4 linked regions of the Homo sapiens genome follow. The protein of the gene in region 3 purifies or fractionates together with the protein of the main gene of each other region. This does not show direct contact. Each region holds a gene or a part of one and is shown on either strand. Other genes may lie near its edges.

Region 1 (4,087 bases), on a different chromosome or scaffold from region 3:
AAAGTTGAGAATCAATGTGATATATACATTAAAAAAATTACAAATTAAAGTCTGCTTTTACATATCTACTTTATATATTAGTAACAAAGAGAGAATTGTCTTTAACGAGTCTGCTAACAAAATACTCAAGTATGAAAATTCTAATGCTGCTAAATATCCAACATTGAAAGGATAAGTCCCCTTTAGTTCCAATTCCTGTAGCATGTTACCAATTGAACATACTTTAATCAGCAGTAAAAATCAACATTGAACCCCCTTTCTCCTGACTTAGTATATATGTTATGGGATTAAAACAAATTTAACTATTAATCTAAACAAGACATGATTAAGAATGTGTTATATACTGTCATTTTGAGGGTCAGATGCCAAAAAAAATATGTCTTTTGAACGATCAATATTCCACTAAAGTCTGGTAAGATAGTAAATCTTTTTCATTCCATCACTTCACCTCAAGTAGAACAATTTCTGGGATAAAGGAATGGAACTTAGATTTCTCCACTTCTATTTCCAGTTCTGTATTTGCTCTATTTACATGATCTAATACTACTACCTTCCCTTATGTACCTCTGAATGAGCTGCCAAAAACCCACTAATGTTCTACTTAATACTCATTAGTAAACTCATTCACAAAGTGACTGTTAAAAGGTTCTCCATTGCTGTCAGGTCGATTGAAGCTCTGCAAAAGCAAGGGCCCAGGCTTGCTCATACCATGTCCCCAATGCCAAGTACGATGCCTGGCACAGAGAAGGCATCCAATGAATATATGACGGATGCAAAAGTTTATTACGTCTTCAGATGTTGCTTAAAATGTGTTAAAATAAAATGCCAAGGTGCTTTTCTTTTAGGGTTGCCAATACAGTTGGAATCTAACTTAATATTTTTCATACTCTGCCTATCCTTTATAAAGGATTTGAGGAGGGCTTATAAGATTTAAAAACAATAAAATGCCAAAAGTTAAATAATAAAAAGTCAGGACCAGTGAAAATAGAATAAAGATGGTGTGTATGTTGGGATGGTGGTTGATGATGGACACAGGTATGCAGGCTGTATTTACATACATAGTAGTGAATAGCAGACTGGGCTCTGGGCTGCTCAGTAGCCTAGGCAAATAGGGGATGTTTTGTGTAGTTACACAGTGTATTACTTCGTTTTCACACTGCTGATAAAGACGTACCCAAAACGGGGAACAAAAAGAGATTTAATTGGACTTACAGTTCCATATGGCTGGGGAGACCTCAGAATCACGGCAGGAGGTGTAAGGCACTTCTTACAGGGCAGTGGGCAAGAGAAAAACGAGGAAGCAGCAAAAGCGGAAACCCCTGATAAACCCATCAGATCTCATGAGACTTATTCATTATTATGAGAATAGCATGGGAAAGACCGGCCCCCATGATTCAATTACCTTCCCCTGGGTCCCTTCCACAACACATGGGAATTCTGGGAGACACAATTCAAACTGAGATTTGGGTGGGGACATGGCCAAACCATATCATTCTGCCCTGGCCCCTCCAAATCTCACGTCATCACATTTCAAAACCAATTATGCCTTCCCAACAGTCCCCCAAAGTCTTAACTCATTTCAGCATTAACCCATATGTCCACAGTCCAAAGTCTCATCCGAGACAAGGCAAGTCCCTTCTGCCTATGAGCCTGTAAAATCAAAAGTAAGCTAGTTACTTCCCAGATACAATGGGAGTACAGGTATTGGGTAAGTACAGCTGTTCCAAATGGGAGAAATTGGCCAAAACAAGGGGGTTACAGGGCCCATGCAAGTCCAAAATCCAGTGGGGCAGTCAAATTTTTAAAGCTCCAAAATGACCTCCTTTGACTCCAGGTCTCACATCCAGGTCATGCTTAAGCAAGAGGTGGGTTCCCATGGTCTTGAGCAGCTCTGCCCCTGTAGATTTGCAGGGTACAGCCTCCCTCCTGGCTGCTTTCATGGGCCGGCGTTGAGTGTCTGAGGTTTTTCCAGGCACACGGTGCAAGCTGTCAGTGGATCTACCACTCTGGGGTATGGAGGACGGTGGCCCTCTTCTCGCAGCTCCACTAGGCAGTGCCCCAGTAGGGACTCTGTGTGGGGGCTCCAACCCCACATTTCCCTTCTGCACTGCCCTGGCAGAGGTTCTCCATGAGGGCCCTGCCCCGGTGGCAAACTTTTGCCTGGGCATCCAGGCGTTTCTATACATCTTCTGCAATCTAGGTAGAGGTTCCCAAATTTCCATTCTTGACTTCTGTGCACCCGCAGGCTCAACACCATGTGAAGCTACCATGGCTTGGGGCTTTCACCCTCTGAAGCCACAGCACTAGCTCTGCATTGGCCCCTTTCAGCCACGGCTGGAGCAGCTGGGACACAGGGTACCAAGTCCCTAGGCTGCACACAGCACAGGGCCCCTGCACCTGGCCCACAAAACCACTTTTTCCTCCTGGGCCTCCAGGCCTGCCATGAGAGAGGCTGCCATGAAGGTCTCCGACATTGCCTGGAGACATTTTCCCCCATGGTCTTCAGGATTAACATTAGGCTCCTTGCTACTTTTGAAAATTTCTGCAGCCAGCTTGAATTTCTCCTAAAAAAATGGGTCTTTCTTTTCTACTGCATTGTCAGGCTGCAAATTTTCTGAACTTTTATGCTCTGTTCCGCTTTTAAAATGGAATGCTTTTAAGAGCACCCAAGTCACTTCTTGAATTCTTTGCTGCTTAGAAATTTCTTACACCAGATACCCTAAATCATCTCTTTCAAGTTCAAAGTTCCACAAATCTCTAGGGCAGGGGCAAAATGCCTCTAGTACCTTTGCTAAAACATAAGAGGAGTCACCTTTCTCCAGTTCCCAACAAGTTCTTCATCTCCATCTGAGACCACCTCAGCCTGGATTTCGTTGTCCATATCACTATCCGCATTTTGTTCAAAGCCATTCAACAAGTCTCTAGGATGTTCCAAACTTTCCCACATTTTCCTGGCTTCTTCTGAGCCCTCCAAACTGTTCCAGCCTCTGCCTGTTGCCCAGTTCCAAAGTCGCTTCCACATTTTTGGGTATCTCTTCAGCAGCACCCCACTCTACTGGTACTAATTTATGGTACCAAGTTCATTTTCACGCTGCTGATAAAGACATACTCGAAACTGGGAACAAAAATAGGTTTAATTGGATTTACAGTTCCACATGGCTATGAGGCCTCAGAATCATGGCGGGAGGCATAAGGCACTTCTTACATGGTGGCAGCAAGAGAAAAATCAGAAAGAAGCAAAAGCAGAAACCCCTGATAAACCCCATCAGATCTCGTGAACTTACTCACTATCACGAGAATAGCATGGGAAAGATTGGCCCCCATGATTCAATTACCTCCCCCTGGATCCCTCCCACAACATGTGGGCATTCTGGGAGATAAAATTCAACTTGAGGTTTGGGTGGGGTCACGGCCAAACCATATCACATAGTTTTCACTGCCCACATGAAAACATACAAATTCATCAGAAAAGTAAATTTTGCTTTTTTTAGATACAGGGTCTCACTCTGTCACCCAGGCTGAAGTGCAGTGGTGCAATCATAGCAATCACTGCAGCCCCAAACTCCTTGGCTCAAGCGATCCTCCTGCCTCAGACTCCTGAGAAGCTGGAACTACAGGTGCATGCCACCACACCCAGCTAATTAAAAAAATGTTTTTTGTAGAAATAGGGTTTTGCTATGTTGCCCAGGCTGGTCTCAAACTCTTGGCCTCAAGTAATCCTCCTGCCTTGGCCTTCCAAAGCATTGAGATTACAGGCATGAGCTGCTGCACCTGGCCAGAAGTAAATATTTTATTGATATTTAGTTTTGACATAAAGTTCTCATGTGGGATTTCCTATTGTGAACAAATCCTCATTTGTTCCTATTGTGAACAAATCTCATGTGGGATTTCCTACTGTGTACTTGAAGAGGTATTTGACTCTATTTGAAATCCCACATGAGCACTTTATTTCAAAGCTGAAATAATTGGTCTAAAATAATTTGGTCTTTATATTCTTTATACACCTTTATACTCTTAAAAATTTTACTGAGGATACAATAGAGCTTTTGTTTACATCAGAGTTTCTCATCCTTGACACTACTGACAT
Region 2 (4,087 bases), on a different chromosome or scaffold from region 3:
TGGGAGCACACAGGGTAGATCTATGGAACAGCAAGAAGCTCAGTACGGCTGGGGCCAGGTAAGCAATGGGGAGCCACTGAAGGGTTCTGAGCAGAAGCATGACATAATCTGATTTATGCGTTAACAGGCCCATACTGTCTGCTGAGTTGAGAGATTATAGGAAAATGAGAGTAGAAGTGGAGAAACCAGTAAGGAAGTTACTGCAATATTCCAGGTAAGCATTAATGAGACCACGGTGGTTAGTGGTGGAAGGTGAGCAGCAGATGGACTCTGGATACATTGTGAAAGCAGAACTAACACAATCTCTTGACTGATTGGTATTGAGAGAAAAAGAGTTAACAAGGATGATTCCAGCATGTTGGGTCAAGATAACTGCAAGAATCAAGTTGGTACAGTTTACTGCGGCTTTTGAAAAGACTAAAGGCCAGGCGCAGTGGCTCCCACCTGTAATCCCAGCACTTTGGGAGGCTCACTTGAGGCCAGTAGTTGGGAGACCAGCCTGGGAAACACAGTGAGACCCCTGCCTCTACAAAATATTTTCTTAAAAATTAGTCAGGCATGGTGGCACATAACTGTTGTTCCAGCTACTTGGGAGGCTAGGGTGGGAGGATCGCTTGAGCCCAGGAGTTCAGGGTTACAGTGAGCCACGATTGCACCACTGCACACCAGCTGTGTGACTGAGCAAGACCTTGTCTCTAAAGACTAATTTGTCATCCAATCACTGTCACATTACCCACTTAAACCAGAACTCAGAAATATGTATTTCTTTTTTCCTGTTTGTTCTTTGGATAAGGAAAGCTCCTCTGGATAAGGAGATAACCATAGCTGATAGGTAAACAGAAAATTTTGATTTAAAGCATTTCACAATGTGTGCATTTATTTTTTCTAGAGCAGGAAACAGATGACTTCATAAATTTAAAAAACTAGTTAAAAACTTAAAGGAAAAGAGAGGGATAAGGACTGTGTTCTAGGGACTGATTGAGTATCCCTAATCCAAAACTTTGAAATGAAATCCCAAATGCTCCAAAATTTGAAACTTTTTGAGCACCAACATGGCAGTCAAAGGAAATGCTCACTGGAACATTTCAAATTTCAAATTTTTGGATTAGGGATGCTCAACCTCAATGTGTAATGCAAATATTCCAAAATCTGAAAAAATCCAAAATCCAAAACACTTCTAGTCTCAAGCATTTTGGATAAGAAATTAATTAATCAATTAATTTATTTATTTATGTTGAGACGGAGTTTCGCTCTTGTTGCCCAGGCTGGAGTGCAATGGCACGATCTTGGCTCACCACAACTTCCGCCTCCTGGGTTCAAGCGATTCTCCTGCCTCAGCCTCCCGAGTAGCTGGGATTACAGGCATGCACCACCACACCTGGCTAATTTTTTGTATTTTTAGTAGAGACGGGGTATCTCCATGTTGGTCAGGCTGGTTGCAAACTCCCAACCTCAGTTGATCCGCCCGCCTTGGCCTCCCAGAGTGCTGGGATTACAGGCGTGAGCCACGGTGCCAGGCCTGGATAAGACTCACGCCTGGATAAGAAATATTCAACCTGTATTTTATTTATGTCTCCTCAGGCTACAATTTGGAGGTTGCTTTTCTTTCTAAAGGTGCAATACTTACTATCACTAAACTTTCCTGAGGGAAGATACGGGAACAATAAAAAATAAATCCAAAATGTATTTTCTTTAGAGGGGGCAACACACTTTTAAAAATTTAACTTACAAAATCTATTTTTAAATTTCTTATCTGAATAACGATACAGTGGTAACTACAGAAGGGGGTAATACACAGTCTTTGAACATTACAGGGGTTTTCAACAGTTTGCAAAGTCTATAGAGCTCCTCAAGATAAGGCTCCTTTCAGAGCCTGATAAATGTGGTAACTGTAACACAATCATTGAGTTTGGTTACAGGTTAGTTATATGTAAAAATAAAAGAAATATAAAAATACTATTATAGTTTGATTTGTAAAACACTGTGAGTGAGCAAAAGGAATCTAGCTATAATCACCATTGTTGGAAGGTAGGATGGGGATACAGCAACAGAGAACAAGTCTCACATTTCAGAGCAGGCCATATCAGATAGAATTTTAAAAATCAGCTAACATTCATTAATTGCTTACTCTACACCAGGCACTGAACTGACAAACATCTAATCCTTTGGAGGCAAGCATTGCAATTATCCCATTTTAATAAACACAGAAACAATGATTTGCTCAGGACCACACAGTAGTCAAATAACGGAGCTAGAGTGAAACCTGGAAAATCTGACTCCACAGGGTCCACAACTTCTCTTTGCTGCCTATACTTAAGCTAGAGTACAATTCAGGATTTAATAAGCTTTTAAAAACAGTACATCAACAGCATAAAGAAATAAATCTCCAAGGCATCTTGATGAGTTAACAAAAAGTAATTTAAAAGGAAATGAAATACTATAATTCTTTCTCCAAGTCCTTCTTAAAGAATAACAGCTATTACCATTTGGGGGTACCCATTATATGTCAAGCCCTGTTCTAGGTATTTAATATGTCTTCTCATTTAATCTAATACCTTATAAGGCAGGGATGGTAACTCCTTTTCACAGGTGACATAAGTTCAAAGAATAACTTATTCAAAGGCAAATGGCTAGTCAGTCAGGGCTAAAATATAAACACAGGTCTGCTCCATTTTCCACATTAAGAATCTCTTAAATTGTACTTTGAAAAAAATCTTTATTTTCCTTAAAGAATAAAGCAAGGTTAGGATATTAAATTCGAAAGGGTGTGAAAGTATCTATAGTCCCACCACCCCAAAGAGTAGCTATATATATCTTGGTATTTTCTCCTCATTTTTTTTTTTAAACAGGGTTGTGGACATATTGCATATACACTTATGTATCCTGATTGTTTCACTGGCAACAGATGTTTCTCCAAGTTTTTACAGAATTTTCACGGGCAAGCTGTAGCTGCTACACAATGGTTCACCATGTGGCTCTGGCATGACTCACACAGCCATTCCTCTATTTTTGAACTTTCAGGCAGTGTTCCATTGTGCACTATTATAAACACAAAGTGAATAAGCAGCTTGGTATATAAAGTTTAACTATGTTTTAAATAATTTCCTGCAGTTTGTAGAAGGGGAATTACAAATTCAAAGGATAAATCATTAAAAAGGTTCTTTACATGTCAAGTTGCATTCTGAAACAAATAACTTTAGATAACTGAGGAAAGTACTGCAGCAGCCTAAGTATGAAATGATGGTGGCTGGGACTAGCATGGTGGCTGGGACTAGGATGGTGCGGGGGCGGGGGTGGATATAGAAAAAAGTGGATGGGTTTAAAATACATTTTCAAGGTAGAAGTGACATAAGAATCTGCTAACAGACTGGATGTGAGTGGGCAAAAAGAGGGACAAGAAAGATGGTGTCCAGGTTTTTTGTGGTGCCATTTATTGAGATGGGTTAGAAGGGGAGTAGGAATAAGCCAAAGCAAATTTTACGTAATAGGAAAGAAAGAAAACAAACAAGATTATTAGAACATTTATGTTGATTTAGAAAATGTAAAAGATATGGAAGTCAATACAGTCTCAAAACAAAATGGATCTTGATAAATGCTAACAACAATACTTGCACTAATTTTCACGGTATCAAGGGAAGTTTTAAAAACTAAAAACAAAGAAACATCTAAAGAGAGCTTACTAAATACTTAGTAGGAACTTAAGACATTTGGATCAATGTCTTAAAAATACTACTGGAGGCTGGGCATGGTGGCTCATGCCTGTTATCCCAACACTTTGGGAGGCTGATGTGGGCAAATAGTTTGAGCTCAGGAGTTTTAGACCAGCCTGGGCAACACGGTGAAACCCTGTCTCTACAAAAAATACAAAAATTAGCCGGGTGTGGAGGCATGTAACTGTAGTCCCAGCTACTCGGGAGGCTGAGGTAGGAGGATCACCTGAGGCCTGGGGAGGTTGAGGCTGCAGTGAGCTGTGATTGAGCCACACTGTACTCCAGCCTGGGCAACAGAGTGAGACTCTGTCTCAAAAAAAAAAAAAAAAAAAAAAAAGAAAAAAATTAAAAGAAAAAGAAAAACAAAAAAAATTTGT
Region 3 (4,950 bases):
AGGCTGCAGGGCCTTCAGAGGGGACCCCCTGGCCCACTGGCAGGAAAGGCTTGCTGGTCTCTCTCTGTGGGGGAAGAGGCAGCCCCGCAGGTGCCCAGTTCTGCCGGGAAGAGTTTTTTTAAAAAGGAGAATAAGAAGCTATGGCCGGGCTGGACGTTGTGGCTCACGCCTGTCATCCCAGCACTTTGGGAGGCTGAGGTGGGTGGATCACCTGAGGTCGGGAATTCGAGACCAGCCTGAGCAACGTGGAGAAACCTCATCTCTACTAAAAAAAAAAAAAAAAAAAAAATTAGCCGGGCGTGGTGGCACACACCTGTAATCCCAGCTACTTGGGAGGCTGAGGCAGGAGAATCGCTTGAACCCAGGAGGTGGAGGTTGCATGAGCAGGAGGCAGAGGTTGCATGAGCAGAGATCGCGTGACTGCACTCCAGCCTGGGTGACAGAGCGAGACTCCATCTCAAAAACTAAATAAATAATAAAAAGCAGCCATGGCTGTGTGCTGGGCAAGGATCCCATTCCAATCCAGTTTCACCAGGAAGAAGCTGATCACAGCATCAGGCTCTCAGCTCACTGCAGCCTCAAACTCCTGGGCTCAAGCCATCCTTCCTCCTCAGCCTCCTGAGTAGCTGGGACTACAGGCACTGCAACCATGTCCTGGTAATTTTTTTTTTTTTTTTTTTTTTTTGAGACGGAGTCTCGCTCTGTCGCCCAGGCTGGAGTGCAGTGGCGGGATCTCGGCTCACTGCAAGCTCCGCCTCCCGGGTTCACGCCATTCTCCTGCCTCAGCCTCCCAAGTAGCTGGGACTACAGGCGCCCGCCACTACGCCCGGCTAATTTTTTGTATTTTTAGTAGAGACAGGGTTTCACCGTTTTAGCCGGGATGGTCTCGATCTCCTAACCTCGTGATCCGCCCGCCTCGGCCTCCCAAAGTGCTGGGATTACAGGCGTGAGCCACCGCGCCCGGCCGTCCCGGTAATTTTTTAAAATTATTTTTTGTAGGCCGGGCACGGTGGCTCATGCCTGTAATCCCAGCACTTTGGGAGGCCGAGGCGGGTGGATCACGAGGTCAGGAGATCGAGACCATCCTAGCCAACATGGTAAAACCCTGTCTCGACTAAAAAAAATTAGCTGGGTGTGGTGGCATGTGCCTGTAATCCCAGCTACTCAGCAGGCTGAGGCATGTGAATTGCTTGAACCGAGGAGGCGGAGGTTGCAGTGAGCCGAGGTTGTGCCACTGCACTCCAGCCTGGTGACAGAGCGAGACTCTATCTAAATATATATATATATATATATATATATAATATTTTGTAGAGACAGGGTCTCGCTACATTGCCCAGGCTGGTCTTGAACTCCTGGGCTCACGCAATCTTCCCTCCTCAGCCTCCCAAAGTGCTGGGATTACAGGAGTGAGCCACTGTGCCCGGCCCCAGAGGAGGGTTATTTATCACCCCCAAGACCTCAACAAGTCACTAGAAGCAAAAGGACAGGCTGTCAGTGCCTGGTTGGCCAGACTGGGGCCACTGGGGGCCAGAGGCCGTTGGAGGCTGGCTGCAAGGGACATTTGCCTTCACCCCCTCCTGCACCCTGAGCCAAAGATTGCCCCCAAGGCCCTCAGGGAGATCTGGCAGATCCCTTGACCAGAGGCCAGCATGGGGCTGAGAGAACTGCGCAGTGGGGAAGGGGGAGGGGGCTGCCTAGAACCACCCCCCTCAACCCAATCTCAGCATTGAGGTGTGGGGTGGCACCAGGGGCAGGGGTGGGTGTGAACCCAGCCCAGGGACTTCCCTTAGGACTTCAGGGCTGGGGACATCTCCAACCTCAGGGCAAGGCCACTTGGCATGGCTCACCTGGGACAGTAAGGGGCTCCTCTCCCCCTCCTCCATCCTTGACGCTGGAACAGAAAGCCCCCAGCACAGGCGCCGGGAGAGGTTCGCTGGCTCCTCTGTGGCTGGGCTGCTGGGCTGGTCCTGACTGCGGCCCTGGGCTAGTCTGTGAACAGTGCAGCCCTGGGCATGGGAATGGGGGAGGTGCGAGCCCTACCCAGATGCCGGAGTCACAGTTGAGTCATGTGAAGAATCACATTTTAGAGCTTAAGGAGGCCTCTGCTTGTGGAGATATATTTCTCCCCAGCCCTGGCTCTGTGGGTCCCCTAAGCTCAGCGCAGGTGTGACTCAGGCAGGCATGTTTGGGTGCCAGCCTTGTGGCTCTCACTGCAGCCCCCCATGCGGACTTCAGCTCTGCAGGGTCAGCAGCCGCTCCATCAGCTCCCAACCAGGGAATCAGACCCTGGTAAATTGGTTCACAACCCCAATCCCAAGAGACCCATGGGCAGCCCCAGCGCCAATCTATCCCCCGGCTTGTTCACTGCACGAATGAAACAGCGTCCCCCCACCAGATCACCTCCTTGTTTTTGTTTTTGAGACTGAGTTTCGCTCTTGTTGCCCAGGCTGGAGTGCAATGGCGCAATCTCGGCTCACTGCAACCTCGCCTCCCGGGACTACAGATGTACGCCACCTTGCCTCACTCATTTTTGAATTTTTTTTGTAGAGACAGGGTTCTGCTGTGCTGCCCAGGCTGGTCTTGAACCCCTGGACTCAAGTGATTCTCCTGCCTTGGCCTTCCAAAGTGCTGGGATTACAGGCTGGAGCCACTGTGCCCGGACTCAGCCACCAACACTCAGCAGTCCAAAGAGGTGGTCTGGGTGGTGCAGCACAGCAGGCAATGTACTGATGGAGCAGGCAGAGGGTTTCAGGCGCGCGTGAGACGCCTGGGTGGGAGCACACCGGGCAAGTTTTAGGAGGAAAGGTCACCTGGCTGTGTGGGGCAAGCGGAGATGGGGGTGGGAGGGAGGTCCATGAGGTGACAGGGCTGGATCAGGTGAGGCCTTGAAGGCCACTCTGAGTCTTCAGATCTTCCTCGGAGAAGTGGGATATGCTGCAGGTGGGAAGTCGGGGCGAGGACCAGAGCTGCAGGCTGAGCTTCTGGGCTCCAGCTTCCCTTCACCTCCCCAAAGGTGACAAACCCAACCTCATGGGCCCTGCAGCAGCTCCACAGCCAGGGTCACGGTCACAGGGACTGTCCACGGCCTCCAACTCAGTCTGTTCTAAGGATGGGTAACCTTTTTTTTTTTGAGACAAGAGTCTCGCTCTGTTGCTGAGGCTGGAATGCAGTGGCACGATTTTGACTCACCGCAACCTCTGCCTCCTGGGTTCAAGCGATGCTCCTGCCTTGGCCTCCTGAGTAACTAGGATTGCAGGCGCCACACCTGACTGATTTTGTATTTTTAGTAGAGATGGGGTTTCACCATGTTGGCCAGTCTGGTCTCGACCTCCTGACCTCAAGTGATCTGCCCGCCTCCTCCTCCCAAAGTGCTGGGATTACAGGCGTGAGCCACCACGCCCGGCCAAAGTCTGGGTAATCTTTTAATGAAACGATCATCATCTACCACTGTTATGGCTGAATTGTGCCCCTTACATTCTTATGATAAAGTTCTAGCCCCCCGGACCTCAGAATGGGACTTGGAGACAGGGCCTTTAAAGGCCATTAGGGGCTGGGCGCGGTAGCTCACACCTGTAATTCCAGCACTTAGGGAGGCCGAGGCAGGTGGATCATGAGGTCAGGAGATTGAGACCAGCCTGGCCAACATGGTGTGACCCTGTCTCTACTAAAAGTACAAAAAATTAGCTGGGCATCGTGGCGCATGCCTGTAATCCCAGCTACATGGGAGGCTGAGGCAGGGGAATTGCTGGGACCCAGGAGGCAGAGGTTGCAGTGAGCCGAGATGGTGCCGCTGCACTCCAGCCTGGTGACAGAGCAAGACTCCATCCCTAAATAAATAAATAAGTGCCATTAGCGTGGGCCCTAATCCAACATCCTTACAAGAAAATTGGGACACACGGTGGGACACATGGAGAGACACGAGGAATGTGTGCACAGAAGAAAAAACATGTGAGGTCTCGGGGAGAAGGTGCCATCTTCGAGCTAAGGAGAGAGGTATAAGAAGAAACCTGGCTGGGTACAGCGGCTTATGCCTGTAATCTAAGCACTTTGGGAGGCTGAGGTGGGTGGATTGATTGAACCTAGTAGTAGTTAGAGACCAGCCTGGGCAACATAGCAAGATCCCATCTCTACTAAAAATACAAAAAGTTAGCCAGGTGTGATTGTGAGCACTTGTGGTCCCAGCTACTGAGGAGGCTGAGGTGGGAGTATCACCTGAGCCTGGGAAGTCGAGGCTACAGTGAGCCACGATTGTGCCACTGCACTCCAGCCTCGGCGATGGGAGTGAGACCCCAGTCTTTTCTTTTTTTTTTTTTTTTGAGACGGAGTCTTGCTCTGTCGCCCAGGCTGGAGCGCAGTGGCGTGATCTCGGCTCACTGCAAGCTCTGCCTCCCGGGTTCACGCCATTCTCCTGCCTCAGCCTCCCGAGTAGCTGGGACTACAGGCACCCGCCACCACGCCCGGCTAATTTTTTTTTTATTTTTAATAGAGACAGGGTTTCACCATATTAGCCAGGATGGTCTCGATCTCCTGACTTCGTGATCCACCTGCCTCGGCCTCTCAAAGTGCTGGGATGACAGGCGTGAGCCACCGCGCTGGGATGACAGGCATGAGCCACCGTGCTGGGATGACAGGCGTGAGCCACCGCGCTGGGATGACAGGCGTGAGCCACCGCGCCCGGCCAAGACCCCAGCCTTAAAAGAAAAAAAAAAGAAGAAAACAAAGGAGAAACCACGTCTACTGACACCTTGATCTGGGATTCTAGCTTCCAGGACTGTTAGGAAGTAATTCCAGGCCGGGCATGGTGGCTCATGCCTATAATCCCAGCACTTTGGGAGGCTGAGGCGGGTGGATCACGAGGTCAGGAGATCGAGACCAGCCTTACCAACATGGTGAAACCCTGTCTCTACTAAAGATATAAAAATTAGCCGGGCGTGGTAGCGCACGCTTGTA
Region 4 (4,087 bases), on a different chromosome or scaffold from region 3:
GTCTATTACCTCTCTATGTACTCTAAACTGTGAGTTAAAAATGTAGTTTCCCTATTCTGTATATTTCTTAAATTTCTGTATTCAGTGCTTAGTCACTGCTCAAAGTCTTCTCTTCTCACCAAGCTATCAGAGGAAAATCTGTACCTTCTATTACAATGTGTTCAGAACCCCCCACATCCACTCAGATGCACACAGCTGTACTTTATACAGTGTTTTTCTTCTCTTTACCAGGGAATCATCTGTTTAAGAGAGGATAAATAATGAAATTATAGCTATATTTCTAGGGCTTAAGAAACATTTAAGGCAAATGCTTAAGTTCTCTAAAAATCACATGAAATATTTTTCTCTATTAATATTGCCATGTATAATAATAAACTCTGTAAGAGTTCTCTTAAAGACATGGCTGTATTATCTATCAATTATGGAAAAGTAAGCAGTTCACTCAGAAACCTGACAGCTTGCTGTGGTTTTGTCCCTTGAACACAGAAATGTGCATAGTGCTGGGGCCAGGAGTCACTCCTGTGCACTTCCCCTGGCTCCAGTCCTGAACTCTCCATCTTGGAGTCTAATTAAACTGACTTCATTCTAGAATAGGACAGAAAAAAAAGCAAAAAAAGGAGTTGTAAGCATTTCTTGGCATGTCAAGCATAAAAGTAATGCTAGGAACATCTACCATTCTATTCAGAATATCTGTACCTTGGCTTATGAAACATACATGGGAGAACAAGACACAGATATCCCACAGCTGCAACACCTCTGATAATCAAATATGCCTGCACACGCCCACACTCCTGCACACCACCACACGTAGACAGGGAGACACCATCATGGCCTGAGGCTGATGGAGAATTCATTTTGACCCCTGAACACTAATTTTAAGATTCATGTTTCTATCTCTCCTCTTCCTCCCACCTCTACCTTCTTCTTTACTACTCCTTGAAGAACTAAAACCAAAATGAAACCCTGAAAACCTATACAGGAGTGCCTGTATAGGTTTTATCCAGGGCTTAATTCTCCAGAAGAGTTAGAAATAGGTTGGTGCTGTAAGAATGAAAAGTGGGTAGGCTTTCCTGGAAAAATGTACACAAACTGCTTACCACCAGAGGGAAGCTTTCCTCCCCCTTTTAGCTTTAAAGGCTATAGTGTTACCCCTTCAAAATAGGGAGAAGAGAAGGGTTGATTCTGATTTTTCTTTCATTTTTAAGCTATAACATTTGCCTTTGAGATCATCAAATGTGATTTTCAACATTGCAGTGATATAAAATAACTGGGCCTGAACTCAGACAGACAATTCAAAACCTAAATGCAGATCTCACCAGTCACACTCCTCTTAGCTTTTAAAAAACAACTGAGATTTGACAAGTTATCCAATCAGAGAGGGTGATGTGCCACAAAACATACCAAACACAAGTGCCACCCACTTCCTTCCTCCCCTACCTTCAAACAAGAAGCAGGCACTTATTAGATGCTTAATAATAAAATGCTTTCACATGTGTTTTTCACATTTTGTTCATTTTCCACTCTGTATTTTGCTTGCATGAGAGTATTTCTGAAAATACTTTAATTTTGAATATCATACGAAACATAATAGAAGAATCAATAACAAAGGCTTCTATTTTAGATATTCTAGAAGGCATACTTGTACAAACAACTCTGACATTTTGAAAAATCGATTTTAAAACACACTCATAACGCATTAAGATACTTGCTTGCCCAGTTGTCTCTACACCCCAAGCGGCCACCTTTCCTCATTTAGGAATACAATTTAGGACAGCAATATGAGTGCATTTATGTGAAAGGAAGACTGTGTTAACCTTTGACTTACCTCACAGAACATATACAGAGACAGCAGTGTGAGTCCAAGGTTATACACCACTAAAATCCCCCGGCAAGAGAATGGCTGTTTATTCCTCATGTATTTTGGTCCCAGCCATACAATTAGTAAATATATGACAGAGCAGATAAATGTGGGTATATAATTGTCCAGAAGAAACCATCCTTTTACTCTAGTATCTGAAAAATTAAAAAAAATTAATGATATATAAAAACATTCACAACTTTTCAAACGTTGAAAAAATTTCTCTAACCATGATGATATAAAAGTCACCTGGTATTCATGTTCTTAATTCCAATAAAGCAATCAGGAGAGGAGGCATGGATTTTCAATACATATCAAACAAGGTGAAGCTCCTTGTTACATGCTCTGAATAACAATGTATTATTCATGATTTTTGCTCAGTAAAATAATAATACAAATATTCTTTCCAAAGAACTTAAGAAGAAAACAAGGAGAAGGCTACACTTCCCATTAATTGGATTTATTAACCAGGTATACCAGATTACACATAGGGTGATAAAACCCAAGAAATGGCAGTCATTGAACTCTGAAGTCCTCCATCTCAGCTGTGTGTCAGTCGGCAAGTGTGGCCAGCACATGCAGACTCAGAAAACGTGCTGCTTAGCCACGTTAGTGAAACTGGCACTAATTAGAAAGGCAGCCTTTGCTATGAGTGTAATGGTCAACAGCAGAGAGGACAATGATTTAAAAACAAAACAAGGGCTGGGTGTGGTGGCTCATGCCTGTAATCCCAGCACTTTGGGATGCCAAGGCGGGTGGATCACCTGAAGTCAGGAGTTCAAGACCAGCCTGGCCAACATGGCAAAACACTATCTCTACTAAAAATATAAAAATTGGCCAGGCATGGTGCTGCACACCTGTAATCCCAGCTACTTGGGAGGCTGAGGTGGGAGAATCGCTTGAAATTGGGAGGAAGAGGCTGCAGTGAGCTGAGATCGTACCACTGCACCCCAGCGTGGGCAACAGAGTGAGACTCCGTCTCAAAAATGAAAATAAAAACAAAACAAAACATGAAGGTGAAGCAGCAATGATCAGATAAATGCCTATTTAAAGGGCAGTATTTAACAAACTGAGGAGTAGTAGCATGAGAGCGAAGACCTAGGCGGATCCAGAGGAGATACTGGTATAGGAAGGGCCTCTCCTGCCCCTATTCCTTTTCTTAGGCAGGGAGGAGGGAGAGGGAAACAGGTCAGCCGCCAGCAGCAAACTGACAACCTCTTCTTGGATGGCGGGAAACTCCTTGGCAGCCAGAGCCCCTAAGTGTTATGTGTCCCCTGAAAGATTCAGCTTCATACTCTGGCTGACCCCAGGAAGCTACCTCTGAAAAGCATGCTCCCCTTTGAACCCTGCTATGATGTTCCCCGAAAACCTGTGGCTCCTCAATCTTAACTACCCGCCAAGGCTCACAACTCCAGAACATGAGGCACATGCAGCATTCACCTACTGCGTCTTCAGAGAAGCAGCAGTTGGGAGGACAGCCTTTGCCATTTCTTTAATTTTTTTATTATTCATTTATTTATTTATTCTGAGACGGAGTCTCACTCTGTCGCCCAGGCTGAAGTGCAGTGGCGTGATCTCAGCTCACTGCAACCTCTGCCTCTAGGGTCCAAGCGATTCTCCTGCCTTAGCCTCCAGAGTAGCTGGGACTATAGACACACACCACCACACCCCGCTAATTTTTGTAATTTTAGTAGAGACCAGGTTTCACCATATTGGTCAGGCTGGTCTGGAACTCCTGACCTCAGGGGACCCACCTGCCTTGGCCTCCCAAAGTACTGGGATTACAGGAGTGAACCACCACACCCGGCTCTGCCCTTTCTTTGACCCCTCCCAGACTGGACCATCTTGCTACTCTCTCCAGTCGTTTTCACCTTGATTTCACAGAACAAGAACAGGCTCAATAAAGCATATGTCCACGTGGGGAACTGTCAGTCAGTCTTCCTTTCTTGCACTGTACACACTAAACTTTCCCAGCATTTCTCTCATGGCTGGCTTGCTTTGGCTTCAGAGGGACATGCCCTCCACACCCTCCCCACTAGTTATGCTATGGTCACGGAGGGTGTTACTGTCAGTCCGGCAGAACTGGTTGTGCTTAGAAGTCATTCAGGGAAATGGCTGGCCCCAGGGACTTTAAGGGGATGCTTAACACCTTTTGTTCTCAGCTTTGGGCCTTGGCTGTCAATTTTAAGAAAACCAGTTCCCACTTAGCAACTAACATCAGACTGTTAT

What was found.
Region 1: the proteins of TSPAN10 (region 3) and ALG11 purify together in Homo sapiens (affinity purification with mass spectrometry; one large-scale study listed by BioGRID and IntAct). This does not show direct contact.
Region 2: the proteins of TSPAN10 (region 3) and VEZT purify together in Homo sapiens (affinity purification with mass spectrometry; one large-scale study listed by BioGRID and IntAct). This does not show direct contact.
Region 4: the proteins of TSPAN10 (region 3) and ELOVL5 purify together in Homo sapiens (affinity purification with mass spectrometry; one large-scale study listed by BioGRID and IntAct). This does not show direct contact.

The regions. Positions count from the first base shown.
Region 1 is NC_000013.11:52,014,811-52,018,897, reverse strand, and holds part of ALG11 (GDP-Man:Man(3)GlcNAc(2)-PP-Dol alpha-1,2-mannosyltransferase), read right to left. Parts: intron 1-4,087. UniProt on the Homo sapiens protein: GDP-Man:Man(3)GlcNAc(2)-PP-Dol alpha-1,2-mannosyltransferase that operates in the biosynthetic pathway of dolichol-linked oligosaccharides, the glycan precursors employed in protein asparagine (N)-glycosylation.
Region 2 is NC_000012.12:95,276,220-95,280,306, reverse strand, and holds part of VEZT (vezatin), read right to left. Parts: intron 1-4,087. UniProt on the Homo sapiens protein: Plays a pivotal role in the establishment of adherens junctions and their maintenance in adult life.
Region 3 is NC_000017.11:81,639,346-81,644,295, reverse strand, and holds part of TSPAN10 (tetraspanin-10), read right to left. Parts: intron 2,037-4,950; exon of another isoform or gene 1,990-2,036; 5' UTR 1,884-1,989; coding exon 1,848-1,883; intron 1-1,847. UniProt on the Homo sapiens protein: Part of TspanC8 subgroup, composed of 6 members that interact with the transmembrane metalloprotease ADAM10.
Region 4 is NC_000006.12:53,289,951-53,294,037, forward strand, and holds part of ELOVL5 (very long chain fatty acid elongase 5), read right to left. Parts: intron 2,014-4,087; coding exon 1,826-2,013; intron 1-1,825. UniProt on the Homo sapiens protein: Catalyzes the first and rate-limiting reaction of the four reactions that constitute the long-chain fatty acids elongation cycle.